Linked DNA regions of Homo sapiens. The protein of the gene in region 2 interacts with the protein of the main gene of each other region in a biochemical or structural test. Each region holds a gene or a part of one and is shown on either strand. Other genes may lie near its edges.

Evidence for each region.
Region 1: the proteins of DAB2 (region 2) and FCHO2 form a complex in vitro, tested with the Homo sapiens proteins (2 studies listed by BioGRID).
Region 3: the proteins of DAB2 (region 2) and CSK form a complex in vitro, tested with the Homo sapiens proteins (one study listed by BioGRID).
Region 4: the proteins of DAB2 (region 2) and MYO6 form a complex in vitro, tested with the Homo sapiens proteins (7 studies listed by BioGRID).

What each region holds. Positions count from the first base shown.
Region 1 is NC_000005.10:73,077,427-73,085,844, forward strand, and holds part of FCHO2 (F-BAR domain only protein 2), read left to right. Parts: coding exon 1-67; intron 68-753; coding exon 754-886; intron 887-4,356; coding exon 4,357-4,556; intron 4,557-5,334; coding exon 5,335-5,399; intron 5,400-8,418. UniProt on the Homo sapiens protein: Functions in an early step of clathrin-mediated endocytosis. Has both a membrane binding/bending activity and the ability to recruit proteins essential to the formation of functional clathrin-coated pits.
Region 2 is NC_000005.10:39,414,296-39,422,713, forward strand, and holds part of DAB2 (disabled homolog 2), read right to left. Parts: intron 1-8,418. UniProt on the Homo sapiens protein: Adapter protein that functions as a clathrin-associated sorting protein (CLASP) required for clathrin-mediated endocytosis of selected cargo proteins.
Region 3 is NC_000015.10:74,784,818-74,793,235, forward strand, and holds part of CSK (tyrosine-protein kinase CSK), read left to right. Parts: intron 1-3,726; exon of another isoform or gene 3,727-3,760; intron 3,761-3,854; exon of another isoform or gene 3,855-3,940; intron 3,941-5,999; exon of another isoform or gene 6,000-6,129; intron 6,130-8,228; exon of another isoform or gene 8,229-8,418. UniProt on the Homo sapiens protein: Non-receptor tyrosine-protein kinase that plays an important role in the regulation of cell growth, differentiation, migration and immune response.
Region 4 is NC_000006.12:75,878,239-75,885,238, forward strand, and holds part of MYO6 (unconventional myosin-VI), read left to right. Parts: intron 1-1,581; coding exon 1,582-1,712; intron 1,713-1,804; coding exon 1,805-1,882; intron 1,883-3,450; coding exon 3,451-3,580; intron 3,581-7,000. UniProt on the Homo sapiens protein: Myosins are actin-based motor molecules with ATPase activity. Unconventional myosins serve in intracellular movements. Myosin 6 is a reverse-direction motor protein that moves towards the minus-end of actin filaments.

The DNA.
Region 1 (8,418 bases), about 34 Mb from region 2:
TGTGCTTCAGGGTGAAAAATATCAGCAGACTAGAGCAGATTCTTCCAAATGCACAGCTTGTGTTCAGGTTTGTGTACTTTTTGTTTTGAAGGTTGAAATTTCGTTTTAAGATTTTCTTTCCTGCTGTGCACAGTGGCTCACGCCTGTAATCCCAGCAGTTTGGGAGGCTGAGGCAGGTGGATTGCTTGAGCCCAGTTGTTCAAAACCAGCCTGAGCAATGTGGCAAAACCCCATCTCTACCAAAAAAACAAAAAACAAAAAACAAGAACAAAAATTAGCTGGGCATGATGGTGCGTTCCTGTAGTCCCAGCTACTCAGGAGGCTGAGGTGGGAGAATCGCTTGAGCCTAGGAGGCAGAGGTTGCAGTGAGCCAAGATCGTGTCACTGCACTCCAGCCTTGGTGACAGAGCTAGACCCTGTCTCAAAAAAAAATGTTTTCCCCCTTCTTCTTTGAAATAATAATATTCAATTTGAAAACCATACCAAAATTATTCTTACTAAACACCTTTCTGCTGTCTTTTTATTTTGTTTTCAGTGGTGCTAATAGTTATTTTAAGATTCTTTTCTCTCTCTCCATCTTATCTTTCAAGCAAGCTTCTCCTGTGTTCCATTCTTCATCCCCTGATCTAATTTTCCTTCATCCCACCTCTTGGTTTATTTCTACTAGTTTTTCCTGTGTCACCAAATTACTACACAGAGGCAAAACATAAAGATAAGTCAATAAAATAACAAATATATTTTTTATATATGTAGTGATCCATCACAATGTGATTCCAACACAAAAGATTTTTGGATGAACATGCAAGCTGTTACAGTCTACCTCAAGAAGCTGTCAGAGCAAAATCCAGCTGCTTCTTATTATAATGTAGATGTATTAAAGTATCAGGTGAGTGTCACGACATTGCAAAAATTCTAAATTAAAATATTAAAAAATGGAATCTAGCATATAAATGAATAAGTATGTCATAGCCAAGTGAGTTTTTTCCCAGAAATTCAAGGATGTTTTGAAATTAGAAAATCTGTTTATAAGCCAGTGGAGATTTTGACCAGTTTGGTAAAATTCACCATTTATTCATGATTAAAATACTGAGTAAATTTAAATGCATAAATTTGTCCTTAAGCTGAAAAGACTAGCAGTATCAGTCTTAACAATGAAACTCCCAAAGTAATCAATTAAAGTTAGGAATGGCAAAGATGCCCATTAGTAGATCCTGTTAGTATATAAGAGTTTTCTGGATGTGTTAGCCAGTACAGTCAGGTAAGAGAACAAAATAAGCATTAATAAATACTGGGAAAGAGGAATCAAAATTATTATTGCTTACAGGTGATATATTCCTCTCACGAGAACCAATTGAAGAACTATTTGACATAAGGACATTTAATATAGGTGGTCAGTTTAGTAATTAATACCAAAATTAATAACTTTCAAAACCAATTACAAAAACTAGTGGAGAAAAATATTCACAAAGAACAATTAGGAAGAAACACAACACAATCTCTAGTGACTTGAATATGGAAAGATTCATGCTGTAGAAGTTTAGCTGTTTCTCAGTTAACTTATACATCTAATATAATACTGATCAGAAACCCAGTAGAGTTACGTCTTTGTGTTTGGAGGCTTGACAATCATTTTCACGTTTCTCTAGAAGAATAAAGCTTACAAGAATAAGTCAAGAATTTTTTATTTTAAAGAGATGGAGTCCCATTCTCTTGCTCAGAATGGAGTAGAGTAGCATGATCACATTTCACTGCAGCCTCAAACTCCTGGGCTCAAGCAGTCTTCCAGCCTTAGCCTCCCGAGTGACTGGGACTAAAGGCACAAACCACCGCTCCTGGCAAGAAATGTTTTAAACAGTAAAGTGGAGTAATGTTTTAGCTTTAATGGGAAAGCTTAGTATAGACAGTATTTAAAATAGTTTGGAACTAACGCAGCAGTAGATGGCCAGATGAAGGAATAGATTAGAGTATCCAGAAATAGATCTAAGAATAAATGGAAAATTGTTTATACGACATAGTAGCATTTCAAGGCAATGTGGACGTGATGAATTTTTCAAAAAATGATGTTGAGGATAGCAAGCTAGACACTTGAGAAAAAAATTAAGGTGAATCCCTGTTAGACTTTTAGCCAAAGTAAAATCCATGTGTATCAAAGGTTTAATAATAATAATAAAAGATACCATACCATAAAGGTACTAAAATAAAGGCATGGGTGAAGATACAGTTGACCCTTAAACAAAAAGGATCTATAAACTATGCAGGTCCACTTATACGAGGATTCTTTTTAACCAAACACCAATTGAAAATGCAATGATTGTGGATGCAAAACTCATGTATAAACAGAGGGCCAACTTTTTCTATATGTGGGTCCCACAGGGCCAACTATGTTTCTTGAGTATGCACAGATTAGTATATACACAGGGGTCCTGGAACCCACCCTCCCAAGTATGCTGAGGAACAACTGTATATGTATTTCTCTGTGTGTGTATATATGTAATACATATTTATTACATATTTTAATCTTGAAGTACAGAAGACCTAAGTATGATATGAAACCCAGAAGCCATGTAAGAAGAGAATGAGATATTTGATAAATAAATGTGTGTGTTTATAAAATATTTTGTTAAACCTTTAAACACAATCAGTATTTAATCTGTGGGAAAAGTATTTACGACACATAAGATGAACCACAGGGCTTACCCCAAAGAGCCCTTGTAAATTTGTAAGCAACATGTGAATAACTCAATAGACAAATAACCTATGGAAAGATGCTTCATGTCAGTAGTAATGAGAGCAGTCAATACTAAGATAACAATGAGGTGTCAGTTTTAGCCCATCAGATTTACAAAAATGAAAGTTCGCTTTATCCAGTATTAAGAAGGTTATGATCACTTGTTAATAGGATGCAAGTAAAACCTCTTAGAAGGCAATTCTGTTAGATTGTTGAAAGATGTAACCTTTAATTCAACAATTCCACTTCCAGAAATCATCAGAAATACACAGTTGGATGAAGATAAGGCATAAAGGATATTCGCTGTAGCATTGTTTAGAAAGCACCTAAGTACATACACATCAGCAGAGGAGGAAATTAATTACTATAGCCATTAAAAAGAATGACATGGATCTATGTTTGCATATGCCTGAAGAGTCTGGAAGGATATATGCCAGGATTCCAAGGGATAAATTTCCTACTTTATATTTCTCTATTTTTTTAGTTTTTAATAGGGTAATTTTATTAAAATGGCTTGTTTCTAGAAAAATACTTAAAGAACAAAAAAGTGCTGCCACTTAAATTGACTTAAAGTTTCTTACAGGTGTTCATTTATTCAACAGATGTGTATTATTCAGTGCATGTAATTGCTGGGAGTAGGACAGGGAGACAGTAAAGATCAGTAATATTCTATGGGCTGGACTTTGTTGCTCTGGTCTATAATCCCAGTACTTTGAGAGGCTGAGGCGAGAAGATTGCTTGAGCCCAGGAGTTCAAGACCAGTCTGGGCAATAAAAAGAAACCCCATCTCTACAAAAAATGTAAAATTCTCTGGGTGTGATGGCACAAGCCTGTAGTCCTAGCTAGTACAGAGGCTGAGGAGGGAGGATTGCTCGAGCCCAGGAGGTTGAGGCTGCAGTGAGCCATGAGCATGCCACTACACTCCAGCCTGGGCAACAGAGTGAGACCCTGCCTCAAAATAATAATCATAATATTCTATGTTAGAAAATGAGTGGTATGGAAAAAAGAAAAAGTATAGACTAAGGTAAGGAAGATTGAAAATACAGTTTTCAGTGTAAATTTAAACAGAGCAGTCAGAGTAGGTCTCCTTAAAAAGGAGCCATTGGACAAGGAGCTTAAGAATTTGAAGGAATTATAACATTTACTGTGAGTCATGTGATTAAACATTTGAAGTTGGAAGCATTCTAATTCCAACTTGTGGTACTACGTGGTGACCTTTTTTCTCGTGTTCTAAATCTGAATTCTTATAATGTATGAAGAATCTTTGAATTCTGTGTTGAATGTTGGAAGATTCGCAAACTTTACACGCATAATTAAGAATTCCTTCATAAAATGCTGATTTCTGGGCCCTGTCCCTAAGCTGTTGAATCAGATTTTCTGCAGTTGGAGCTAAGGGAATGTGTGTTATAAACAAGCACCACAGCAATTTTGATGTAAGTAGTAGTAGGTCCCCACATTGAGAATGATCCTTACTCCTTTGAGATAGGTCTGCTTCACTCTGCCAACAGATAGTCCCCTCATTAGATATTTTTGATTTTGTGGACTTACATGTTCAAGTGTCCATGTCATTAACATGACTTCTTAACTTTTCAGGCCAAAAACAATTGTTTGTTCTTTTCTCTTTAAAGGTATCATCAAATGGTATTCAGTCCACTCCTCTGAATCTTGCAACATACTGGAAATGTAGTGCTAGCACCACAGATCTTAGAGTGGATTATAAATACAATCCAGAAGCTATGGTGGCACCTAGTGTGCTTTCCAACATACAGGTGGTGGTACCAGTGGATGGAGGAGTAACGAACATGCAGTCCCTTCCCCCTGCAATATGGTAAATTAAACATACGTTTCTGAATTCCCACTAAATTTTTGTTGCAATCCCCAACTTCTAGAACCCAAGTTCTGTAAGTTTTCTTAGAAGTTTGAAAAATTTTTGTGCCTTTTTCCATAGAAACCACGCTGTAAAAGATGCAGTTCATTTTACTAGTCAAACCATAGTAACCTTAATCAAAAATAAACAAAACTAGTTTTGCTCTAAGTACCACCCAGACTTCAATGATTCCATACTAACTTTACCATTAGGCAGAGTGCTTGACCTCTCTAAACTTCTTTTTTTTTTTTTTTCATTTAAAAAATACAAATATTTTATGGATTAAATATAGCATCTGGCAAGTCTATAGGAACAGGAACACCTATCTAATTAGTGTTTAATAGTATTAGTTACTGCCATCTCTTAGCAACTTCTCCTGTCCCCTCTGTTAGTATTAGTATAGACTCTAACCGCTCTTTATAGTTACTTCATCATTTAATAACATGTGTCTTCCTTGACTAATGAAGGTACTGATCCCTATACACATTCCATTTTACTTTCTCTGACCAATAGGAATGAGAAGAATTACATAATTTGGTAAACTTCCATTAATTGAAAAAGATACAGCATTATGTTTATACTATATCATAAACACATTTTCACCAGTTAATACTACTTAAACTTAGCAATATATTTGTTGTAGTGAAAATATTTAAAATACACTTATTTATTGAGGTCCCATTCATGTATCAGGTACTATACTAGACACAAAACCTGAAGATATCTGTTCTTATTGCAGGAATGCAGAACAAATGAAAGCCTTTTGGAAATTGTCTAGTATTTCAGAAAAATCAGAAAATGGAGGTAAGTGTGTGTGTCCTTTTTTATTTATAAAATGATGTCACTGAAAATTGATTTTTTTTTTTTTTTTAAAACAGAGTCTAGCTTTGTTGCCAGGCTGGAGTGCAGTAACACAATCTCAGCTCACTGCAACCTCCGCCTGCTGGGTTCAAGCGATTCTCCTGCCTCAGACTCCTGAGTAGCTGGGATTACAGGCACGTGCCACCACACCCAACTAATTTTTGTTTGTTTGTTTTTTTTTTTAGTAGAAACAGGGTTTCACTATGTTACCCAGGATGGTCTCGATCTCCTGACCTCGTGATCTGCCCACCTCGGCCTCCCAAAGTGCTGGGATTACAGGCGTGAGCCACTGCGCCTGGCCATGGGTGCACCGTTCCTGGAAGCACTGCAATACCTTTTTTAAGGGAAAGTTTATGTAAAGTTTCCTCCTGGAATTTCATGCCCTCAGTTCTAGAAATGACCACTAGGTGGAAGTTAATACCTTTAGAATGGACCAGCTGAGATTCAGAACACATTTGTTCATCTAGATTGAGTATGTGTTCTCTATAAGAAAAAATTTATTTTGCCATAACTTTATAAATATTATGTAAATACTTCTTATATTTACATGCTAACATTAAGAAACTATACCTAGTAAATTTAAAGAAATAGAACTCTATGTTCCATGTAGGTAACCTGATAACTAATTGAAACTGATTTAACACAGTTTAGTTCATTCTGTTAACGGGATTCTCCTGACCTCCCAGAAATCATGTAGACGCTTCCAGGCTTTAAAAAGCCCCTTGCCGTCCCGGCACAGTGGCTCACGCTTGTAATCCCAGCACTTTGGTAGGCCGAGGTGGGTGGATCACTTGAAGTCAGGAGTTCAAGACCAGCCTGGCCAACATGGTGAAACCCCATCTGTTTTAAAAATACAAAAATTAGCTGGGCGTCATGGTGCACGCCTGTAATTCCAGCTATTCAGGGGACTTAAGCATGAGAATCACTTGAACCCAAGGAGGCGGAGGTTGCAGTGAGCTGAGATGGTGCCCCTGCTCTCCAGCCTGGGTGACAGAGTGAGACTCTGTCTCAAAAAAAAAAAAAAAAAAAAGCCCCCTTGCCTTCTGCAGTTCTCTAAAAGAACCTTTTTCCTGTCCATTTCCCCCTATTAAAGCTAACTATCAGCAGCATTCAATTTTCTGATGATTATTTTAAGGAGAAGCAAGTTATGCTTCTCTCACTAAGTACATCTGTTTGTGTTCATAATGCCAAGGAAAAGGCTGTCCTAGCTGATCACTTCTATAACTCAACTTACAATAAGGATGTAATTCTTGGGACAGCCAAGTCTTTAACATAGTCTTATTTTCTCTTAATCAAAAGAGAATTCTTCTGCCTTCTTTTGAATGCATAATTTTAGTCTACAATAACTTTTCTGCTTGTTTTTTTAGGGTTTGGTTTTGTTTTGTTTTGTTTTGTTTTTTTGAGACAGAGCCTTGCTCTGTTGCCCACTCTGGAGTGCAGCGGCATGATCTTGGCTCACTGCAACCTCTGCCTCCCAGGTTCAAGCAATTCTCCTGCCTCAGCCTCCCGAGTAGCTGGGATTACAGGCACCTACCACCACATCCAGCTAATTTTTGTATTTTTAGTAGAGACAGGGTTTCGCCATGTTGGCCAGGCTGGTCTTGAACTCCTGACCTCAGTTGATCTGCCAGCCTCAGCCTCCCAAAGTGCTGGGATTACAGGCATGAGCCACCATGCTCAGCCTAGTCTCCAATAACTCCTCTATTTGATAGGTTTTTTGGCTTTTCAAATGTTGCTGAGCTTTTTCTTTTTGAATATTTTGAGCATAATATAAAACATATCAGTAGCTTTTCTCATAGATATTTCTGTAGAAAGGACCGTAAATATGTCTGTGTTGTTTATTCATTTACACCTGCCATGCAGAATAAGACTTTTACTGGAGAGCCATACATTGGGTGAAATAACCAAGCAAATCTTCAGTTTCTTTTTTGCTGTTTGGTACTTATAGGTTGCCCACTTTCAGCTGGCCAACTGCATTGACTTTAACCCTAGCTATTAATATATAGCTTTTTGTGAGCCAAGCTGAAATTCCTAGTTTAAATTGAAGTAAACCAGCAATCCTGTTTGCATTAAGGGCTTATAACCAGTTTAGAAGGACAAAAGGATCTTTTTCCCCAATATAATGAAACTATACTATTGTAAATAATTAACAAGAAAGAAATTTGTTCTCTCAAAAATAAGACACAGGCTGGGTGCAGTGGCTCATGCCTGTAATCCCAGCACTTTGGGAGGCCAAGGCAGGTAGATCGTGAGGTCAAGAGATCGAGACCATCCTGGCCAACATGGTGAAACCCTGTCTCTACTAAAAATACAAAAATTAGCTGGATGTAGTGGCACGTGCCTGTAGTGTCAGCTACTCGGGAGGCTGAGGCAGGAGAATTGTTTGAACACGGGAGGTGGAGGTTGCAGTGAGCCAACATCGCACCACTGCCCTCCAGCCTGGCGCAGAGACTCCGTCTCAAAAAATAAAAAAATGAGATACAAATTTTCTAACCAGATTTTAAGTTTCCCTCTGCTATTCAGGTATCAGGTGTTTCTGTGAGGAAATGGAAAAATCTTATAAATGTGGTTTTTGATGTGGTTAGTCAAGCCTTTGAAAAGAATATCCAAGGCCAGGCATGGTGGCTCATTCCTGCAATCCCAGCACTTTGGGAGGCTGAGGCAGGTGGATCACTTGAGGCCAGGAGTTGGAGACCAGCCTAGACAATGTGGCAAAACCCTGCCTCTACTAAAAATACAAAAATTAACCAAGTGTGGTGGCACGTGCCTGTAGTCCCAGTTACTCAGGAGGCTGAGGCACGAGTCTAGCTTGAACCTGGGAGGCAGAGGTTTCAGTGAGCCAAGATTGCACCACTGTATTCCAGCTTGGGCCTTAGAGGGAGACTCTGTCTCAAAAAATAAATAAATAAATAAATAAATAAATAAATAAATAAATAAATAAATAAGAATGCTGTAAAATAGG
Region 2 (8,418 bases):
GATTCTTTGATTTGGGCAGAAATTGTGTTAAGTCAAAGCAATAGCCTTAATTATCCAGTGCTAAGCCAAAGGTCTTACCTATTTTCTCAAATTTTATTAGTAATTTTATAAACAATTTGGTGGACACTTTTAAAAGGAGAAACAGAAGGAGAATAAGAAGTTGTTTGTGGATAAAGTATCAGGCTGAAATCTATTCACCACAATTCTTATTAGCCAGGTGATTACATCCATCAGGTCAGACAGATATATGAGCAATGATGAATACTCCATTGGTAGAAGTTAAACTAGCAACTTGGAAAGACCACACCATCTGGAGAATTTCAGTAACAGCTTGTCTGCCTTCCTCAGGCCCTGAGCAGATATAAACTAGAAGAACATATGGATATTGCTCATTATAAATAACCTTAAAGTTAAAAAAAGGGGGGGGGGTGGTCAGAATTGTTTTACTTATACCAACAGATGATAAGGCAAGCTAAAGTTTTCCATTTTGCTCACTCTATAATAAATTGCAATTGATGTTGTAAATGAAAGTGGCTTGAGTTACTCACTCACCTGGCCATCTGGTTATTGTTTATTAAACACCTACTATTTGCCAAGCACTGCATTATCCTATGTATAGAGTGACAAAATAGACATGGTCTCTACTCTAAAGGGGCTTAGAGGTTAGGTAGGGGAGAAAGAACAAGCAGGTCACAGTTATAACTGATGCTATGTGTTTTGGAGGAATTGTTTCTGATTAGGGTAGAAAGCTTCATTGCTGTTAATAATACTTCATAAAAGGAAGAAAAAGTAGTATTACATCAAGGAATTATATATAAATTGCTGTATTGATATCAATTATGGAAAGATGCAAATGTTGTCTGAAGGGTTAATAACCCTCTTCAACAATTTTTAAATTATGACACAAATTGAGGGGATATTTACATTTAATATTTATGAGTCTCCTATAACCACGTTACAATCTGAAGGACCATCTGTATGGCAGTAACAGAAGGAAGCAATTCTGTTATACCTGAGGGTATTGAAGAATTTCAGTGATGTTTCCTTCAGAGTTATCATAAGATCCAAAGTTCTGAATCAACACTATCTTCATAAACACCAGAAGGAAACACTATGCTCATTTGGCATTCAGTCTGGCATTCACTTAAGAAGTACAAGCAATTCAGGGAACTTCTGTATTCTAGAACCAGACATGTTCTGTGGCACTTTTAATTACCAGATTTTCTAAGAATACAACGTGTCACTTTCAGATCAGGCCAAACATTGAACCTCAGATTTCAGTGAAACAATCTTATGAAAATGTAACCAAGGGTCCCTACAGCTTGCTTTAGTTATTTAAAGAGCACTACCAAGTCACAAGAGCATTATCAAGGGGCTACCAGGCAGCACTTGGTCAATGTCAGTCTTCAAGGAAATGGACTTCATGATCAATACAAGTAGTGAGCCCTCCACAAATGTTGGCCGCATGAAGTGTAAGAGTCCAGATCCTAACACAGAACATGGTTGTGCCCACTGTTTCTATGAAAGAGTTCTTGTGCAGAAAACTGAACATTTGCATCACTATACACTAAGTGGGAACAGCATTACAGAATGTACTTCGTATGCAGATATACCTAAAAGATCCACAACAGTACTGTCTGCAGCTTAGAATGAAGCTAAGATTTTATCCTAAACTGTTCATGTTTAATGAATGAGTCAAACCTCTGAAAGTCTACTTTTCATAATTACCCTTTATTTTCACACCTCTCCTCCCTCCCCATCATATTTTTTTTTTTACTTAGTTCCAGCATTTTTCCTCAACCTTGCCTCACCGCCACCCTGAGTTCCTCCTCCCTAAAAAGCTATACCACGTTGTATCATACATGTCCCTCATGATTAGCGGACTTATATTATGGTGTTTGTTGATCTTTTCTACACACATAGCATAAGTACTCCTTAATATATTTAAAACACTTGAAGTGAAAAACAAACAAACAAACAACTCTTTATGGGATGAGCTCTTTCTTCCATTTTCTCCAAAGGGCTTCAGTGAGAATCTAAGGTGTAAGAGACTCTGGTTGTAACTGATCTCCCTTTATGGCTAAATTTTTGTAGGAGTGTTTACTGGCCTCCTAGCTTTCCTGATTTTGAATTAATCAGGTATCGGTGTTCAATTCCTCCATTCACATTCAAGCTGAGATTCAAAGCCCTTCTAATCAGGCTGTGGACTATACATATACATGGCCACCTGCTCTCTGAAGAGGCCGTTGTCTTCTGTTTCCCCTAAACAGACACATAGACACACCAGACCTTCTTATGTGGTCTGCTAGCCTGTAATATGTACTGCCTTCACCTTCTTGAATTTCGTGAAAACCTTCATTCCAAGGCCACTCAAGATGTGTGGTCTCAGGGAAGTCTTTACCGGCCTCTTACCAGCCATTTCCTCACATTTGCCATGACCTATCATTGCCCTCTGATTCATGTAGAGCTCTTCTCTCAATTCAATAAAGCTTTTGGGATCCGAAAATTATTTGCCCTACTTTTCTAGGCTCGACACAGTCTGTTAATGAGCAGTGCGCTTAAAACATTAGGGGTAATAAATATTTCTTTTTGCACCTTAATCTTAGGTTAAGCAACCCTTTTCTCTACTTTGATGATTTTTGAAGAAATATAGGCTTTTCTTCAACTACTAAGCAATCTCCACTCAAACACATTCTGCCAATAGAGCCAGGTTAAGTTATCCCAATCAGCATTTGGTTTTCCTGCTTTAATGACGGATCTGCTTGGCAAACACCGCATATTCTCATTTGTAAGTGGGAGTTGAATAATGAGAACACATCAACACAGGGAGGGGAACATCACACACCGGCGCCTGGTTGGGGGGTAAGGGGAGGGATAGCATTAGGAGAAATACCTAATGTAGGTGATGGGTTGATGGATGCAGCAAACCACCATGGCACATGTATACCTATGTAACAAAACTGCATGTTCTCCACATGTACCCCAGAATCTAAAGTATAAAAATAAAAAAAAAAAATCAAAATTCTTATCCTGACATCCATGGCTCAGTATAATTCATCCCTACTTTTCAAACTCAGACACTTCTCAGCCCTATGCCACCTGTACTGTTTCTTGGCCAAACTGACCAGTCAGAGTTCTTTAGGCATATCCTAAGTTCATCCAACTGCATGATTTGCATATGCGCTGCTGCCTAAAATGCATTTTCTCTTCTTACCTTTGCTTATTTGACTTCCATTGTTCCTTTAAAAGCCAAATCCATTAACACCAATGGCCTTTTTCTCCCTCTGGATCCACACAACACTCTGTACCACTTAACTACAATAAAATCATATGTTAGTTGAGTAGTTACTATTTTCTCTAACTATCTTATAGGCAGCTCTTGTCATATATGTGTCCCTCTAAGGTAAATATTTGCACCCAACTTTCAATTACTATCAACTTTTAGTCATTGGGAACTTCAGACCAGTTAGACAAATCAGAAATCACAAAGAACAGGTTTTCAGGCAGTTAAGCAAGCATTTCTGCATCAAGCTATCCTTTAGAAGACAGCGTGGACATTAAATATAACTGTCTATCATTTCAATTCTAGTACATGTATGCTCTCTGAAAAGCCTCAGCTATAGTTGAACCTTAGCCCAGGCAGAAATCAATATTGACCCTCCTTACTAGCAACCAACAATTGATGGAAAAGCCTGTTCTATCAGCTACATACTTGTTTTTTCTACTTCAAAAATGAATTGCATTTAAGTCGCTTAATTTTAGAGGTAAAGGGGGCAGGGAGCAACACAAAACAAAATCAAGTAACAACAACAACAAAACCTAATGCTGATATAACTAAAGCACAGCTGACCCTTCCCTTTAAAGGATGGATATTTGAGCACCTACTATGTGTAGCCACAGCAACTTCTGATCTTCTGACTCAGAGGGCAGTTGTATGTTGCCCTAGTAGATTCACATTTCGTCCCAAAGCCAAACTGGTATAGCATTCTTCATATGATTATGTCAGCCCTCTGACATATGTTCAAACACATTTGGTTTATTTCTGTTGCACTAAATGGTAACAAAAAGCACGTTAGCATCTGTATTACATATTACAGAAAACTAGACCAGGTCTTGGCCCCCTAATAGGACACTTAAAATATAAAAAAATAAGTGAGATCATTTGGATGCAATATTTAGAACCGAGAGGGCAGCTGTGTTCAATATGGACACAATTAGGGATGAAGTTATTCACTTTCCAGTTCTTTGGGTATGGATTAACTATAGACCTTAAGAGGACTTAACTGCCCTGCTCAGATGAGGTTTAAGTGGTACCTTAAAGTTAGTATTTGTGTGCCTCTACTGATTTATGAAGCATTGCCACATTCTCCTCCTTGATTATTCACATTTAATAGTTTAAAGATATATAGGAAAGACAGTCTTCTAATTTTCAGCCTGAATGTGTGCATCTCTAGAATTTAGCTTGCCTGATACTCAAAAACAATGAGAACAAGACCATTTAAAAAATATCAGCTTAGTTATTGCATTGAGAATTGCATTTCTAGGACAGGTAAATTTCAGAAGCAGCCGCAGGAGTTCTGAAGAGTTTTTAATTTTAAAATCGAGGCAACTCATTTTCCTGATGGAGAAATGAAGCTCAGGCCTTATATAGCTTGTCTTACATGGCAAAGCTAGGCTGTGGGCACAGTCATTTGCAGCTTAGAACCCAAGCTCTTAACCATGAATCTATGTTGGCTTTTCAAAATCAGAGTTCCAATTATATACTTGTACATCACACCCTTGTATTTTTCAGTTTGAGATGTGATCTCTGTTTGACATCAGGCATTCTTAGGACTGTTTTTGCAAGGTAAGTGAGACAACTAAGGGCCAGAGACATTGAATAGCATGCCCAAGAAATGGTAGCACTGCCATTCACATGTAAGTCTGTTTAACTCTCTATCCTATGTCCTTTGCCACACATGAGGAAGACTTTTGTTTTGATTTCTGCTCACTGGGAGATTTTCCATTGCTAACCTAGCATCAGACTTCACATAGTAGGTAATTGCTAAGTATTCAGATAAACGCCAAGGTGCAAATCATAAAGATTCATAATTGAATCCTGGCTCTACCACTTAATGATAACACCTTGGGCAAGATACTCATCATATTGGAGCCAATAAATAGAGATATCTTTTCTATTTCAAGTTACTTAAAGTGAAAGTCGAATGGGAGAAAGGAGCAGTGCTTCGTTAGCCATTAAACTTTACAAAAACTAAATGAAGTAGACTCATTTATGGAGAGGACTTCATCTGCACTTCTAGACATGGCATAAAAACAAAATAAAAAGTTTTATAGGTTAGAGAAAACCATCTGGTTCAAGGGTAATGATCTAGTTTACTGGAATCCTTTTTAAAAGAAGTAAGTGGGACAGTCTCCTAATAAATGAAGATTAATTATACTCTTTAAAAACCCCAGCAGAGGGGAAAAGATTTGGAAGTGAGGTGATAATATCAAACCAAAAGTATATTGGATTTCCTAGGATCAAGAAAGTCATACTTGGTATATGGGAAAAATATCCAAATCCCATGCTTTTTAATCTTTCTGCATCCTAAGATTCAGTTAAACTGCACTGTGTTTAAAGGCTTTTGCTTTATTATCTCCATGACTGAAGGAATTCAAATACTTTGTTATGATTTCCACTGAAGAAGTGAATCCTAAAACCACTGAATTATGAAAGTTACTCTTGGATCACGTGGTGGAGAGCTAGTTTAGATACAGCTGGATGGGCCCTACTTCCAGAGTTTGCAGTTCTGACAGGTCCCCAGCTGATGTTGATGCTGCTGGTTTGGGAATCAGCTCTGAGAACTATTGTCTTAGATGAGTTCCCTCAAGCTGTGAAATACACATCAAGCTAAATGTCCAATTTTGAAAGACTGAATTAATTTGTCAAATGCAAACTTGTGTATGGCAGCTCATCTTTCATATAAAGATCAAAGTCTTTTTGGGACTAACATTTTGCATCATATTGCTAGGTAGCAATAGGGTAGTTTTTTACCAAGAGACAACATTAAACCATATTTCCCTCATCCAGATTTCTTCTAGGTTGAAAGGTGCTTCAAATCCAGCATTCTAGGATTGTTACTTCCTATTTACCTGCTCCCTTTACTCTATGGTTACCTGAAAATCTAAGTGACAGCCCTCATACATTGTTTACCTTCAACGTAACACTCACTCAGCCTGCCCCATTCACTTAGAATTTTTACCAGTTGACTTAGTTAAAAATCACTTGCCCCTAGCTAGCTAGTACAAATGTAGTAGGGAAAACTTGCCAGGCTGCTTCTATATTGAGGTAGTAACTTTTAGGTTCCAGAAATTTCATAAGCTTTCATGTTTTGCTATCTAGATGATGCAAGAACTAGGAAGGTTAGAAAATTAAGTATTGGGATTAAAATAAGTTTGGAGGGGGTGATATAAGTAGAGAGGAGATTCTACTTCACTTAGTAACTTCCATTTTTAGACCAGGAAGCAATTTGTTCAGATTCTACTTCCCCTAGAGAGGCAGGCTTCCTTCCAGGGTAGAAGGATGCGGGAAGGGGAGTAACCATGGCAACCTGCCCAGCTATGTGGGCAAGGATAGTATGGGGCCTGCACACACTCGGAAGAATTTTTATTTCTAGCCTAGTCATTCAGTTTAATCCGGGTGGTCCCTCCCTTCCCACTTCCTTCTGTGACAATGCTGACTTCAGGGGGAAGGATTGCTCCTTCTCTGTCAGGAGTCTGAGAGGGTGTGGGGAGGACTTAATTGAGACCAGCGAGGTCAGCCTGACCAAACCAAAGTGCAGGCTTCCAGGACGAAAACAGAGAGTAACTCCCTGTCTGTTCTAGCATGAGCACAAGCAAACGCACTGGCTTTATTAAAATCAAGTGCTTGAATAATTAACCTTTTTCAAGTAGGTGAAGGGTATTCAATTTTCATGAAGAAATTTTCCATTTGCTTTCAGTTTTCACAAAGACACTTAATTCAGTTGTTCAGGGGGGAGTAATAACAAACAAACAAAACCTTCAAAATCAGATGGGAAAAAGTATTCCAAGTATATTAGATTAGCTGTCTTCCCAGCAATCCTGGGGTAGGTACTATTATTCTCCCCAGATAAGCAAGCTGAAGTACAGAGAGGTTATGGAATGTGCCCAAGGCCATGTAACCTGCAACCCTGTAGCTAAGATTTGAACCCAGGAAATGGTACTTCAGAAGGTAGTTCTCAACTACTATCCAATTGTGCCCTGTTGGAGGCAGCCAGTGTTGAATGTTAGCCCTCTGTGTCCGTACCAGTCATCATTTGTTCCCCTAACCAGGAATTTGCTTGTTTTCTGTCTTTAAGTAAAGACTGAGGAGTCTGCTTTCCTTCTGATTTCCACCAGTTAATCCAGTCAGGATATGCTGATATTATGAGTTGGGTCTCCTTTAAAGACACATATCTGGTGTTAAATCTGATTCATCTGGCCGGGTGTGGTGGGCTCATGCCTGTAATTCCAGCACTTTGGGAGGCCGAGGTGGGTGGATCACTTGAGGTCAGGAGTTCGAGACCAGCCTGGCCAACATGGTGAAACCCCGTCTCTACTACTACTACAAAAAAAAAAAAAAAATATTATCCAGGTATGGTGGCGGGTACCTCTAATCCCAACTAATCAGGAGACTGAGGTCACAGAATCTCTTGAACCCAGGAGGCAGAGGCTGCAGTGGGTCAAGTTCATGCCAGTGTACTCCAGCATGGGCAACAGAGGGAGACTCTGTCTCAAACAAAACAAAACAAAACAAAACAAAAATCTGTTTCACCTAAATATGATTTTGGCCAACCTTTGTGCAATTCAGCGGCACAGCTTCAACTTTGGAATTACATAGCAGTGCCAGGGAGAATTTTAAAATACCACATCCTGTTACTCAGGTGTTTCATATTGCCAATCTGGTTCCCATTCTGGTTCTGTCTAAAGGGTAAAAAACCTTATGTGTTTGGTTAGTTACCTAAACCTTCCTGGCCAGTAAGCTTTCGAATCTTTCCAGCTGGGGAGGTATGTTCTGATGAGCATTAGGACAACTTCAAACCCCAGGAGGGCTCACTCTCAGCAGCTTTCCCAAGCATTTCAGCATCTTGGCTTTGTCTTTAAGAAGAGCAATAATTAAATCCTCAGGTCAAAAGAATGAGGAAGAGAAACACGCAGAGCCTTCAAAATTATCCAGATGAAATATCAGTGGTAGCAAACTTAGGTTTATGGACATATGAGGGTAGAGTTAGAAATGAAGCAGCATAAGAGCCTATGTCACAGCAAAGCCTCCTGCTTGGCCAGGAGCACTCAGCAAGGAAGATATCTTCCTGCTCCCTTAACCTTCAGATAATCGAGGCCTGGTTGAGCAGGCCAGTAAATATCATCCCCAAACAGCTG
Region 3 (8,418 bases), on a different chromosome or scaffold from region 2:
GATTTTAAAACCTTGACAGGTCATCTTCAAAGAGCCAGGGATGTTGACTGAGTCTGGGAAAGAGAAAGTAGGGACAGATTCTCATATGTCTGAGGGACTGTCCCAAATGAGAAAGGCATCCCATGGCAGAAATTGTCCCAGACACGTGGGCCAGAGCTAGGGAGCAGGTGGGTCCCAGGGAAGTGAATCTGAGCTCATTATAGGGAAACCATGAATGTACTCATTTTCTTGATTTAGAAAATAACAAAACAGCGCTACAGGAAATTTAGAAAATGAAACAAAAATCACCCACTATTTCTTCAGCAGGCAGTGACTGTGTTAGCATTTTGGAGTTCACTGCCAGTCTTTTCCCCATCCTTTTCCTTCATTGTCGTTGTCACTGGAGTGTGTGTGCCGTGACACCTTTTTTCATTTAATACTGCGTCTGTGGGCATTTTCTCATGGTGCTACGCGGTCTAAGTAACGTTGCTTCTAAAAAGCTACAGAACATTCTAGGCTGGCCTGCTGCAGCGCCATCACCCATACACTGGAGCGTGTGCATTTTTCCCCTCTGTTGCTGTTGTGGTTGTCGTTACTATGAGTCCCAAAAGCAGCCAGGGTGTTGGAGGGCACAAGCAACTTGGCACCCAACTGAATGTGGGTTCCAGGCCCAGACATGCCACTTAGGCCCAGGGTAGAGGGACCTTAGACAGGTCACTGACCTGCTGAGCCTCGTTGATATAAATAACAGGATGGTAACACCTACTTCAGAGGAAGGTGTAAGGACAGTGTCAACTAACTAACCAAGGGACTCTAAAGTGCCTGGCACAGCCCTTTCTTCACTCCCTCTGTGAGTAGGATTGGCATTGTTGAAGGAGTGCCCACTGCTGGCTGCCTCAACCTGTGGGGAAGGTGCCTGAGCCACGGGCCAATGTTGACTGACCACTCACCTGGCAAAGAGGTGGTCTCCGCCTGAGGAGCCCCTGTGAAACCCCCTGGCCCTGAGGTTCTAGAATACTATGGCCAGTGCCCTTGCCTGCCTTCCCTTCTCCCCATTACCATATGATTGGCTGGCCTAGGACATGGGGCTGGCCCTGGGAAGATGGGCTGCTGGTTAGGGTCCGGGACCTGACTCCACCCATTCCCCTTCCGGTCTCCCAGCATCAGAGCTAAATAGACAAGGCCTCTTCTCTCTCTCTCTCTCTCTTTTTTTTTTTTGTGTGTGTGTGTGTGTGTGTGTGTGTGTGAGATGGAGTTTTGCTCTTGTTGCCCAGTCTGGAGTGCAATGGCGCGATCTTGGCTCACCACAACCTCCGGCTCCCGGTTTAAGCGATTCTCCTGCCTCAGCCTTCCAAGTTGGGATTAGAGGCATGTGCCATCACGCCTGGCTAATTTTGTATTTTTAGTAGCGATGGGGTTTCTCCGTGTTGGTCAGGCTGGTCTCAAACTCCTGACCTCAGGTGATCCACCCACCTCGGCCTCCTGAAGTGCTGGGATTATAGGCGTGAGCCACTGCGCCTCTTCTGTAAGAGCCTGGCTGCCTCCTGCCTCCCAGCTCTGGCTAGGTCAGCCCAGCTTGGCATTTTCCCAGAGGAAATAGAGGCCTGCTTAGCCTGAGACTTAGACAAGGAACCCAGGCATCCTGAGCCCCAGCCCAAGAACAGCCATGCCAGCCTCATCTTCGCACCCTGTTCCAGTAGCCAAGGAAGGGAAAGAAGCTGGGAGATTAAGGGTAGGGGGATTCTGGAGCCTCCCAGAGCTTCCCAGGAGGGAGTTGGACACATCGGGAAACTCATGTTAGCCTCCCCCTCCTCAGCAGGTGTTCCCCAGGTCTAACCTGAGTGTGTATCACTGTGACACACCTGCTTCCTCTTGTTCTACTTTTGTGGAGACCAGGGTAACTGGGAGTGCCCTCCTACAGCCACCCCGTGGGCAGTAGCAGGACACCAGTCTCCTCCTGGCAACCCTGGGCCTAAGAGACTGTAGCCCCAGATGACCCTAGGGTGGCCCAGGACTAACCTAAGGAAGGGGTCCTCCCCCAGGTGGCCCATTCAGTGCAGAGGTCCCTTGGGCACACGACTTCAGACTCCAGCTGCCAAACTTTGGCCTGTGGAGTATCTCCTCCTCCCTGGTCTTAGTGTAAGGGAAGTGGGCATGACAACTGCCCTCCTGTCCCACAGCTTGGGATGGGATGAGGTCACAGGGTGGGGTCCGCCCCAAGATGCTGGCCTGGCCTGGCTCAGATGAGAGCCCTTTGGGTGTTTCTCAGTTTCCCCCGCCCTTGGTTGGGGACAGGATGGGTGGAGGAGCAGGCCACCCCCAACGCCCGGCAGGGAGCACTGCCTCCCTTCCCCCTCTCCTCTGGGTCCCTTCATCCAAGGGCTGGAAATAGAATCCGCTAAGTAATGATTAAAGTCAAATTCAGACCTAAAAATAAAGAGCTGGTGAAGGAAGAGCTGGTGCTCCCTGCATGGCTGAGGGGAGAAGTGAGCAGGGAGAGGCTGGCTTTGGGTGGCTGAGCCCCTGCTCCTCGGGATCAGAAGTACTCCACCAGTTGGGGGGGTGCTCTTTTATCTGCCATGATGTGGCCCATTAAGTGTAGACGGCACCACTCAGGGCAGACTGGCAGGACCCATTAGAAAAAAAATCCCATTTTTCCCATGGGGAAACTGAGGCCCAGAAAGGAGAAGTGGTTTGTCAAGCGACTATTTGAGAGCTCCCCTCAGCAGGCCCCCAGGGACTGGAGGGCCCTGTGCAGCCCAGCCTGCCCTTTCTGCCTGCTCAGTTTCTCTTCCTGGTTTTGAGGTGCTAAGATGAAGTCAGCTTCTCATCACACACTAGCTGTGCACACACCCTCCAACCGCAGCTTCCCTCCACCCCTCCTTCTGTGGTCTGGGCCCAGAGTCGAAGGAACAAGTAGAAGAGAGGCTGCTTGGTGCCCCCCTGGCTGTCCTGATCATGGCATGGTTGTAAGCCTCGTGGGCAGGCGAAAACCTGGGCATCATCTGCCCCCCTTGGACCCTGGCTGCTGCTTCTCAGCCCAGCCTGACACCTGGTCCTCATGCAGACTCGCGCATCTATCTATCTGCAGCTTGTGCTGTCCGTGCTGCAGGGAGACAGGAGGGAAGGATGAAGAGCAAACCCTGAGAGCGCCTCTGCTGGCGGGTAGAGGAGACGAGGAGTCAGTGAGGGGAGGCCTGTGGTTCTCACTTCCTGGCAGAGCTGGTAGGAGCTCTGAAGCTGGGGCTCTGCGTGGGCTGGGGCAGCCTGGAGGGCCTCCTGGAGGGGAAGGTCCTGTGAAAGTTGAGAAGTGTTTGAAGAAGAAGCGTGGTAGGAGGAGAGGTCCTTGTTTGAAGCTTCTGCCCTCTCTAGGGCTGCTGGCTCTTTTCTGTGTGTCCCTCGACAGGCTCTTGGCCTCTCTGAGAGGCTGGGGTATGCAGACAAGCAAGAAGTGGGCACAGAAGTACCTCTGCTTCCCAGAGCAGAACAGCCAAGCTCTGGGCAGACCTCCCCTCGGTGCCCCCCACCTGTCCATTTTCAGGGTGTCGTCTGTCCTGCACAAGGAAAGGTGGGAAGAAAGGTCCCCTAACCAAGGTTCAGACAACTCTGAGCTCAAGTACCCACACAGCTAGTTCCTCCTCTGTCAGAGATCACCAGTCCTTGCCCTATGGGGTGTTTGAAGGATTAAGTAACTAATGCAGTGCCCCAAACCCGGTTGGGTCAGTCAGCTGTAATTCCCGTGTTCTCATTCTGCAGCCCATCCTGCTGGAGGAGTGTACTGGTAACACCCCCATCTCCCTTAAGTAGTAGCAAGTCTGTCCTTTGTGTTGATCCCCACAGCTTTACCTTCTGAGCTGTGTGTTCTGCAGATCCTGGTTCTGAAGTGGGGAGACCAGAAATCTGGGGGCCGAAGTTTTAGACAGCTTATGGGCCTCCAGCCGTCAGTCTCCCCACCTAGAATGTGGCCAGGAGACTTCCGGGTGAGGGACAAGAACATGACTTTGAAGGGTCCATTGAAGGCTAGTGCTGAGAGGCTATATGCAAATGCAGGCAAATGAAGATGCAAAGACCACATCCTGTGCTAAGGGGGTGGGGGAGCAGAGGCCTGGGTTAGGGCCCTGGGGAGGCCCAGAGTCCCCATTGCCCAGCGCACATAGGTAATTAGGCTCCTGAGCGGTAATTAGAAACCTTTCTGGGCCAGGAATGGCAGCCTCAAGCCGCAGCGGTGCCTGGGGAGTAGGCTCCCCATTAGCCTGCTCTAACCCCAGCCCCCACCTCTCCCAAACCACTAGACGGGATTTCCGGTCCCACTGAACCATTGGGGGCAGGGGAAAAAAAGCCAGTGTGTTGCTATAATTTGGTATTTATCCATTAAATCCGCCCTTCTCCTTAGGTCAGGGTGCTGACGGGAGCCCCGGGATGGGGGTAGGGCAGCGTGCCCTGGAGCCAGAGCAGGCATTCTTCTGTTCCTTCGTAACCGCCCCGGGAGGTGTAGGCATCTCCAAGACCCTGGCGCCCAATTCTGCTGCTGCTCACCCTGAGACACCTGTGCAGTGGGGGTGCTGAGGGACCACCAGCGCAGGCTGCGGGGGTCAGTGGAAGCCCTCGGGCACCCTTCCTTGCCTGATGTGTGGTGGGGAATGTCACAGTGCCTCAGCCTGGTGTCCTCTGCAGAACCAGAGGTGGAGCTGATTTTATTGCTGCCAAACTTGCCCAACTGCTGGTGGGTGCCCCGCCCTCCTCAGGTGCACTGCCCTTTGGAGGGGCGGGCCCAAATCTGAAACTTAATTCTGCCTGTATCTGTACTATGACCTGTAGGCCCTGCTCGGAGGTTCCCTGGGCCCCCATCCTGAACCTTCTTCAGTCTTCATTAACTCGCTCTGTACCACAGTTTGCAGTCTTAATCCTGGTTTACTTCAAGGCGCCCCTCTCTCAGTCACTTTCCCCTAAAATCCTTCTAGCTCCTGCTCCCCTCACCCATCTTCCTGGAAGCCTTCCCGGGTGGCCCCTGTCTCACAATCTATTGAGGCACTGAACATACCAGGCCATGGCTGACCATCCAGTAACCAGGAGGACAGGAGCCGGGTCTGCATTTTGTGGTGGTTCCCAGCATCCAGCCCTGGCTTGTGCACAGAGGAGAGGTGTGTGAGTGGTGACCTTGGGTCCCCAAAGGCAGGACCTCTTGAGTCCTTTCCTTCTCCACCCGGATATCCTGGCCTACCAAGCATGGCTCTGGGCACACAGGAAGGCTTCTAAAACACTGGCTCAAAGAATGAGAAGGCAAGGTGGACCTTGCTGTTGCCTGTTTTGCCTCCAGTGGCTGTCCCCATCCCCCAGAGCATCCAGCTAGGTCCTGTGGCAGCACCAGAATCTCCGGGGGCCAGGGCCCTGAGTTCCCCCAGGTCTTTTGTGCACTTCCCTTTTCAGTGGGTATTTTTAGCTGGGCGTAAACAGTTACTGAAGGCTCCCACGCCCCATTAGGCAGCAGAGTTTTGGCAAGGGGGAAGGGCAAGGGAGCCCCTTGACCTCCCCTGGCCCTCAGCACGTGCCTGGCCTTGGGGGTCTACAGCTGCTTCCAGGGTAGGAAAAGGGCAGCCTGGGAGTTTCTGGGCTCCCAGTTCTTTCTCCCCACTCCTTGTCAGCCTGGGCTCACAAGAAAGGCTGCCTGAGGCTGCAGCCACTGACCTCAGCGCTTGGGCACAATGCCAGCCTGTTCCCGGGACCCCAGCACAAGGGCTGCTGGGAGCCGGGTTTAGGGCAGGAAGTCAGAGTGAAGCACTGGTCCTGCCACATCCCAAGCCCCTTGTCCCCTAGCCCTGCGGGAATGGGGTGACAGCTGCTGTCCCTTTGGGGTTAACTATAGTCCTATTGGTTATGAGACCTCGGTGTGGTACAGCCAGCCTGGCGTCCCCTTTTTTTCATTCGTTCATTCATTCATTCATTCAGCACTCATTTACTGAGCAGCCGCTTTGGGCCCAGCCCATGCAGACGTGAGTCAGACCCTCACTTTCCCCCTGCAGAGCTCCCAGTCCACCCTAAACCACAGGCCACAACCAGTGAGGTTCTCACTGGAGCACGGGGATGTGTGAGAGGCCTTGGAGGCCTCGGCAGCCAACACAGCTGGGGACCCAAGGAATTCTCCAGAGAGAGGTGATTTACAAAAAGTTTCTTATTTCCAGTTTTAAGGGGGAAGGTAATAGATGCATGTGGCTTTAAAAAAATAATAATAATTTTTTTAAAAGCCCAAAAGGACAAAATAGCAAATGAACAGTAAAAAGTAAGTTTCTCTTGAACTTGATCTCACTTTCCCTTCTCATCCTAGAGGCAACCTCTGTTACCAGTTTCCTCTGTCTTTCCAAAGATAATCGAGGCATATTTGAGTTTAGGGAGGTGTTGCATTAATACCTCTTTAAAAACACAACTTGTAGTATTCCATAGAGAACCTGCACCTGGCTTTTTTTTTCACAGCCTTTTATTTTGAGTATTTGAAACCTACCAAAAAGTTGAAGTAATAGTATAATGAATATTCATATATCCTTCATGCAGATTTGCCAGTTCTTAACATTTTGCCACATTTACTCTATCTCTTCTTTTATCTACATAGACATATGTGTGTATGTATTTTTTGCTGATTTGAGTGTTAGTTGTAGGCATTGCATCTTTCACCCTAAGAACTTTAGCGTGTATCTCTTATATAATCACAATGTCATGATCACACTTAAGAAAATTGACATTAATTCCATATTATCTACTATGTCCATTTCCCCTCTCCCCAAGTGATTTTTATAGCTGTCCCCCCGACCACCCCTTGATATAGAATTCAATTCAAGATCATTTATTGAATCTTGTCATGTTTCTCTAGTGTCCTGTTCAATCTAGAACATTCTCCAGCCCTTTTTTTGTTTTGCTCTTTTATGACATTGACATGAAGAGTCCGGGCCAGTTGTTCTGGATTTGTCTGATTGCTTCTCCCTGGTTGGAGTCAGGTGGAACAGCTCTGGCAGGAACGCCCCCCCGGGCAATGCAGAGTCCTCCTCCAGGAGGCACTTAGTGTCCATGCGTCACCTTGCTGGTGATGCTTCACTGGATCACTTGGTTCCGGGGTTGTCCGCACGTCTCCCTGTAGTGCAGGTGCTCCTTCCTGTTTCCAATTAGCCTGTGGGATGGGACTTGGAAGCTGTGTCTGTTCTGCTCCCCTGGCAACTTTTTCTTCAATGACTTGAGCTGGTGTTTTGCCATTTTCCATACTCTATCATGGGGAGTGTTCAGTATCGGCATCTAGAGATCTCCCCTGGCCCCATCACAGCTAGAGCTATGCTGTCCCCTTTCAGGGACATCTTGTAATTTATCCACCCAGCCCCCAACTGATGGACATAAAGGCTGTCTCCCCATCATCTCCTGCTACTACAGACAGCACTGCAGGGACTGTCCTGCTGTGTTTTTTTAAGGCATGGGTACTCCAGAAGCAGTTGCTCAGCTGCACCCCCAAGGTTGAGTGGAAGTCCCTCGGTAAAGGAGGAGGAGAGAGTGTGAAGGGAATGGCAAGGCGGGGAGGGAGACAGGGCACAGGTGTCCTGGCAACAGCAGATGGGAAACAGGTCTGGCTAAGGTACCAGAAGCCAACAAGTCCCAGAAAGGTCAAGTGACTTTCCCAAGGTCACACAGCAAGTTGATGGCAGAGCTGGGTACAGGACTCAGAGCATCTGACACCCAGGACGATGTTCCTGCACTGTTCCATAGAGTAGCCCGACTCTTAAGTTTAAATAACCCCAGGAAGGACCCCCTCTCTGTGCCTGACCCCCGCTGGGTTGTAGAGGCCTAAGTTTGCAGTAGCTCCTCCCAGCCACTCTGGCTGTCAGCCTCTGACCTGCAGTGGGAGGGTCTCACCTTCTGGAGATGTTTTAAGGAGGGGACCCCGGCCTAGGCACTAGCTGGGAAGCCACTGAGCCATCTTGTCTGCGGCCACTGACGTCAGTGCTTGGGCACAATGCCAGCCTGTTCCCGGGACCCCAGCACAAGGGCTACTGGGAGCCGGGTTTGGGGCAGGAAGTCAGCGTGAAGCACTGGTCCTGCCACATCCCAAGCCCCTTGTCCCCTAGCTCTGTGGGGGTGGGGTGACAGCTGCTATCGCTTTGGGGTTAACTATAGTCCCTTTGGGGTTAACTATAGTCCCATTGGTTATGGGACCTCAGTGTGATGTAGCCAGGCTGGATTCCCCCTTTTGTTTGTTCATTTATTCATTCATTCAGGGGTCTCATGACCCCACCAGGGAGGAGCCGTCCAAGAGAGTTAGCAGCTCCCACTTGCAAGATGTCTGTGGCAAGGCAGGCACTGTTCTGGTGCTGAGAGCTCAACTCCAGTCCTCACAGCAGCCCCCAGAGCCAAGGAGTATCACCAGTCCATTGCACAGATGGGGAAGCTGGGTTCTAGAGTCACAGC
Region 4 (7,000 bases), on a different chromosome or scaffold from region 2:
TGCTTTATTCTTTTAAATATGTCATATCCCATCATATGGTTGTAACATAATCAATTGAGATTTTAGTTTTTTTCTGGTTTTTTTTCTATTACCAACAGTGACCCAGAGGACATCTGGACATTGTCCACATGCATATCTTTGCCCACAAGTGTGAAAAATCATAGAATAGATTTACCGAGCCAAAGGGATATTTCCAAATTGCCATCCAAAATTGTTACACTGGCTTACTTTTCTGCTAAGAATGCATCTGTGTGTTTTCCTACACTGTCATCAGCTCTGAGTACTAGTTGTTATCTTATACCTTTGCCAGTCAAATGGGTTAAAATTCAATCTGACTGTCTGTAAAGGCCATCTTTCCTGTGAGATTACTTTAAAATAAAAATTCACTGGTTTAAAAAGTCTTAGAGTTTGTTTTAATTTAAATTTTTGGCTAGCAGGAATTTATTTTGGTGTAAGAAGTGAGACAAGGATCTAGTGTTGTTTTTGTTTTCCAAATGGCTTGCCGTTTGTCATAATACTATTTATTGAATAATCTTACTTTCTCCGTTGATTTGAATAGTCCCAGAGACTGAAATCTAGGTCTTGTAAATAAAAGTCCTGGCATCACTTATAGCTCAGCCTTTCCCTGCCTATCTCACACTTTTTCTGACCTGAAAAGCTCACATTGACTCAAGACTCAGATTAACCACTTACTAGAGTTATACTGAAAATAGATATTTATCCAATAGACTAATCATCCCAGTAGTCTAGTTGCTTTGAGAAGTGAGTGAAAGGCAGTCTTTATAGTGAAACAGTGAGCTCTTCTTTCTTTTCCATTTGCCTTATGCACTGATGATAACTTGGGAATGTATCTACTTTTTGGAGTTTCTTTCAGGAATTTTGTTCTAAAATTCACCTCAGGCCTTTGAAAGTGGTTTAATGCAGGGCTTTGCCTTATATACTGTGTTTGTGACACAGAGTCTTCTAACAGAAAAAAAGATACAAACTAGACTTGATCTTTCCTTAGTTTTGTTTTGTTTTGTTTTGATACAGTGTCTCACTTTGTCACCCAGGCTGGAATACAGTGTCCTGCAAGGCTCACTGCAGCCTCCACCTCCTTTGGCTCAGATGATCCTCCTGTCTCAGCCCCCTGAGTAGCTGAGACTGCAGGCATGCACTAGCATGCCTGGCTGATTTCTCTATTTTTTTTTTTTTTTTTTGTAGAGATGGGGTTTTGCCATGTTGCCCAGGCTGGTCTTGAACTCCTAGGCTCAAGCAGTTTGCCTGGCGTGGCCTCCCAAAGTACTGGGATTATAGGCATGAGCCACTGCACCCAGTTAGACTTGATCTGTCTAGAGACCAATAATTTGCCTCTAGAAAAGAGTCTTATTGGGTTTACAGGAAATTTGACTATAGTAGTTTTAGGTGGTGGATAAGTTGGGACATAATGAGCATAAATATTTTCCTATATAATATTTAGTTGCTGATAATTCTCATAAATTGCCCGTTTCTAAACAGTATCTTACAAAAATGATCATTCACAAATTATTTTGGACTTCCGAACAGTGATTGACAGTGCTTTGTGCTTGTTCGTGAATCTAGGGATGGTGTCTGTTTTGGACTTGATGCAGGGTGGTTACCCATCACGAGCTTCATTTCATGAACTCTACAACATGTACAAAAAGTATATGCCAGATAAACTTGCAAGATTGGATCCAAGACTATTTTGTAAGGTATAAATGCCACCCAAATTGAAATTTCTTAGCTATGAACTTGTCTTTTCTATTAATAATTGACATTTAACTTTTTAACTTTTATTTTTCAGGCTTTGTTTAAAGCTTTGGGCTTAAATGAAAATGACTACAAGTTTGGGTTAACCAAAGTATTTTTTAGACCTGGCAAGGTAAATATACATTTTTTACTTTAAACTGTAACATCATGAAAACAAATAGTTGGGGTTAGTGAATATCTTAAAGTATTTAATAATTTGTATTATTCTTGAATTATATGGTCACTAACAACATGAATTGCTATTTTCCATACCATTTCTCAGAAAAGAAAAAAAAGTTGAGAGGAAGATAATTATATATAATGTTCATAATTTGTTTAGCTTTACTCATACATATTTATTCTAAACTCCCCATTTATTTTAGAGCACAGGTGTCCAGTCTTTTGGCTTCCCTGAGCCACATTGGAAGAAGAACAGTTGTCCTGGGCCACACATAAAATACACCAACACTAATGATAGCTGATGAGCTAAATAAACAAAACAATTGCAATAAAAATCTCATAATGTTTTAAGAAAGTTTATGAGTTTGTGTTGGGCCTCATTCAAAGCTGTCCTGGGCCACATGTGGCCCATGGACTACAGCGTGGACAATCTTGTCTTAGAGCTTTAATAATTATTTGAGAACTAATAGTCTCATAGAGAAAGCACTTTTTCTTGTTTAAACTCCTGAAAAATTAGAAATATTTATTGAAAGCTTAAGACAAAGATTTAAATATCTTTTCTCTCGTTATGTTACCTTTAATTTAATTTTGACTATAAGAAGCCGTTATATTGGTTGATGGGTTTTTGACATTCTTAATATTATAGTGGGTTATTTGGTAAAGGATTGAAATCATTATGGAATTTTGTGGTATATAGTGGAAATAATGTATTTTATTAGTTAAGAACCTACTAGCTGTTTTATTTGTGTTGTCTGTCACTTAGTAGCAAAAATTTCTCATCTCTGTTTAAAATGGAAATGGGGGTTGGGCGCTGTGGCTCACGCCTATAATCCCAGCACTTTGGGAGGCTGAAGCAGTGGGATTGCTTGGTTCCAGGAGTTTGAGACCAGCTTGGGCAACATGGCAAAACCTCATCTCTACAAAAAAATACAAAAATTAGCCGGGTGTGGTGGTGCGTGCCTGTAATCTCAGCTACTTGGGTGGCTGAGGTGGGGAGGATTGCCTGAGCCTGGGAAGTTGAGGCTGCAGTGAACCAAGATTGCGCCACTGCAAAAAAGGTTGGGGGTGGGTAATGGGAGTTAGGAGAGACAGAATAATTTTGGCGGTACCTGGTATTATATAGCTAATATGCACTTATCAAAAGCTCCATAAGGATATCTGAGAATGTGGGTGAGCCAATTCAGAGATACAGTAGTCCTTTTTCATTCTTTTCTTAATAAAGTCTTCTCGCTAGCCATCTGTAATTTAAAAGTCATCCCCCCCCCCCACTTTTGTTATTGAATATGCTACCTAGCATTAAGTAACCTCCTTACCTCCAAAAAAGCTCCTGAAGAAAGAAAGGAAGCAAAACGTGGCCAAGTGTGTTTGTGTTTGTTGTATTCTCTGCCAAGGCCTATGTAATTGACATGTGACCATTTTCAGACAGTTAGATTTTGGATTTGAATTCTGTTTACATCATGTCTTTATGTGTTCAAATGCATTTATATTTTAATACTGATACTAAATTATTTCACTTCCTAGTTTGCAGAATTTGATCAGATCATGAAGTCTGACCCTGACCACTTAGCAGAGTTGGTTAAAAGAGTCAATCACTGGCTCACATGCAGTCGCTGGAAGAAAGTTCAGTGGTGCTCACTCTCAGTCATCAAATGTAGGTGTTTTCCTTTACACCTATAGGATCTTTCATTGTTTCAAGATGGTTTGTGGAGTGTTGTAAAGCTGTCTCAGAGGTGATGCTGAGCAACAGAGACTGAGACTTGTTCACACTGGGTCCCAGGTTCCTATTTGTAGATGTTCTTTCTTTTTTTATTTTTTGAGTGTATGATATTTATTTTCTTTATTCAAATGTGTTATAAGAGTGTCAGTTTCATAGTGTCCTAACAAAACAGAATTCACTATCTTGATCTCTCGTCCCCGCACCCCTCACCATCCCCTAATCTCTCAGACTTAAACCAGAACTTTTCTTTCTGCCTGCATGGCATCTACAATACACATACCCCGAAAATTCTAATTGTAATTGATTTTCCTTTCTTATCCCTGAAATATTGTCAGTCACCAGATCCTGTTGATTCCTTCTCCAAATACTGTACATTCCTTTCTTTTTCTTGCCAGTGCCTTAGTGAAGTCCTTTTCCACCTTTTGCATAATAATTCCATTAGCTCCCAGACTGGTTTTCCTGGTTTCTTAGAGATATCTCTCTAAACTAGAAGCCTTTTATAACTTTCCTTTCATAAAAGGTGAAGTCTAAATTATTTGATGTCTTTCAAGATCATGTAAAATGGTGTGTCAGTTTTTTGTTTCAGTCTCTTCCCCCACCATCCCCTCTTAAATCCTGTTTTTTGAACGGAAGTCTGTCATAATCCTGAAAGACACTGTCTTGAACACCATAATCCCAAATGTTGAAATCTTAAAAGATGAAAGTCCCAAAACTAGGATTCTGTAAAAATAATAAAAAAAGATATTTATTTACATTTTAAAAAGGGGATTTGAGAAACGTATAAAAACATGACAGAACTCTTCATAGGCCACTTTTCACAATAAAATAGGCAATAACATATATATAGGCAATAAACATATATGTTTATTGAAACTATAAACACATATACTAACAATAGTTGCATGGGTATAACAGGAGCAGACAAACCGTATTCATAAAGAATAGGGCGAAAGGTGAAATGCATAAACACATATTATTGTGGTTGGTAATTGTGCACCCAGCTTTGTTACTGCAGTCATCTGAAATACTGTGATGATGAACAAGCTGTCTTTTGATGAGATCAGTCAAAAACCATAGTGAGTCACCACTGCATTTGTAGTTGCCCAGAGAACTGAAATCTTGAGAAATTTTATCTTTTACAAGTGCAGATGTATGATAAAGGACATCTGTTCATTGATTAAGTTTCAGTGTTTTTATATACATACACAATGTTTACCCAGAAAGTAAATGTTGTGGTAATGCATTTTCATGGAGTTAAATTTGCAAAAAATGAATACAGTAAATTAGAACTCTCCAAAAATTTCTACATAATTAAAAAATGCTAACAATTTAAGATAGTGAAAATAAAAACAAAGAAAAAAAAAACACCCAAAACTAAAAAGGAAGTTTGACATAAAAAAAAGTGTATCACAGGGACAGATTATAGGCAGTTGCATGGAGATAGTCCATAGAGCTGGCTGTCTTTCTCAGTCATTAACTATATTTTGAAGTCTTGTACCACGAATAATAGGTGCTTTTTTTCTTTTAGGACATGGTTCTTGGAGAATATGTTCATATTCATTTTCTTCATGAGATTGCTCTTTTTGGAATTCTTCTGTGATTCCTCTGATTGGGATTTTTAGGATTTTTGATGTTAGGGATTTTAATCTAGGAATTTTGATCTTTTGGGATTTCAACATTTGGGATTATGGCTTTTGGGATTAGGAATTCAAACCCCTTTGACATACTGGGCTAAGCTGCTTTTATGTGTGGTTTGGCCAGGTCATAGCAGCTACATAGCTGGCCCAAGACAAAAGTGAGGGACAGAACATTTTGGGGTTACCTAAGGATCTGTGGCAAACCTTTAATTGTTGGGAGCTGTGTAGGAATCAGTAACTTGATTACATTTACAGTTGCCCCTTATACTCATCAGAGTACCTGAAATAGTGCTAGGTACATGAAAAGGATCCAGCGAATTTTTCCTTATCAGTAGAAAAGGAAAATTCTTTTGGCCTAATGAAAAAGAATCATGCTAACAAAGATTATTTTTGAGGTATTTTGTTAGACAATTGTGAATATAGATAAAAAGAGAACTATTAATATAAAAAGAAAAAAGATAGCAGAATCTTTTCCCCATCATTTTCCAAATAAAATACAGAAACATCTTTATTACTGTAGTTTAATACGTTCAGCTTTACACATTGCATTATGATAGGAAACACATTATAGTAAACTCATCTGTTACACCATTCATTTGTGGACTGTGTTCTACAGTGGTACCGAAGTCAGTAACCGGGCAGGGATCTTTGCAGAATGTTAATAGGAAACTCTGAAAAAAAAGTTCAAGGTCAGATCATCCTAGGAAATTGTGAGTAACTGAAGTTAAGTAGATTTCTTTGCTGTAGGATTCTCAGAGGCTTCACTCAGTATGTTCATTGTGAACCTCCATACAGAAGTATAGTGTACAGCTTTTCATAAACTCATTTGACAGGTAAATCCTTTTTTCAGGACATACCTATTCACATTTCATAGAACAAATGTTGCCTAAGACAGTTTGGGAGGTAGCAGTGTAGCATACTAAGGAAATAATGCATTTAAAATGTAAGCCTAACCAGATACATGATATTGTAACTGCCCAGTGGGTTCTCCTTGCCCACTACCCAGACAGAGCTGATTTATCAAGATAGGAATTGCAGTAGAGAGACAGTAATTAATGTAGAGTCGGCTGTACGGGACACTGGAGTTTTATGATTACTCAAATCAGTCTCTCTGAAAACTCGGAGATCTGAATTTTTAAGGATAATTTGGTAGGTAGGGGCTTGGGTTGGAGATGAAATCATAGGGGGTCAAAATTGAGTTTTTCTTGCTTGCTTCTGTTCCTGTGTGGGAGCACAGAACTGGCTGGGCCGGATTACCTATCTAGGTGGCATCAGCTGGTGCATTGGAAGGTCTGCAAAATATCTGGAGCACTGATTTTAGGTGTTACAACTGTGATGTTATACCTGGGAGCAATTTGAGGAGGTTCAGATTCATGCAGCTGGAGGCTGTGTGGCTCCTAAACCGTAATTTCTAATCTTGGAGCTAATTTGTTAGTCCTACAAAGGCTGACTGGTTCCCCAGGCAAGAAGGGGGTTTATTTTGGGAAAGGGTTATTATCATGTTTGTTTCAAAGTTAAACTTTAATAAACTAAGTTCTTTCCCAAGATTAGTTCGGCCTACACCCAGGAATGAACAAGGACAGCTTAGAGGTTAGAAGCAAGATGGAGTTGGTTAGGTCAGATCTCTTTTACATAATTTCCTTGGTTGTAATTTTTGCAAAGGCAAAATTACATCTTTCAACATCTTTTTATTTTTAAGAAGAATAAGAAATTATAG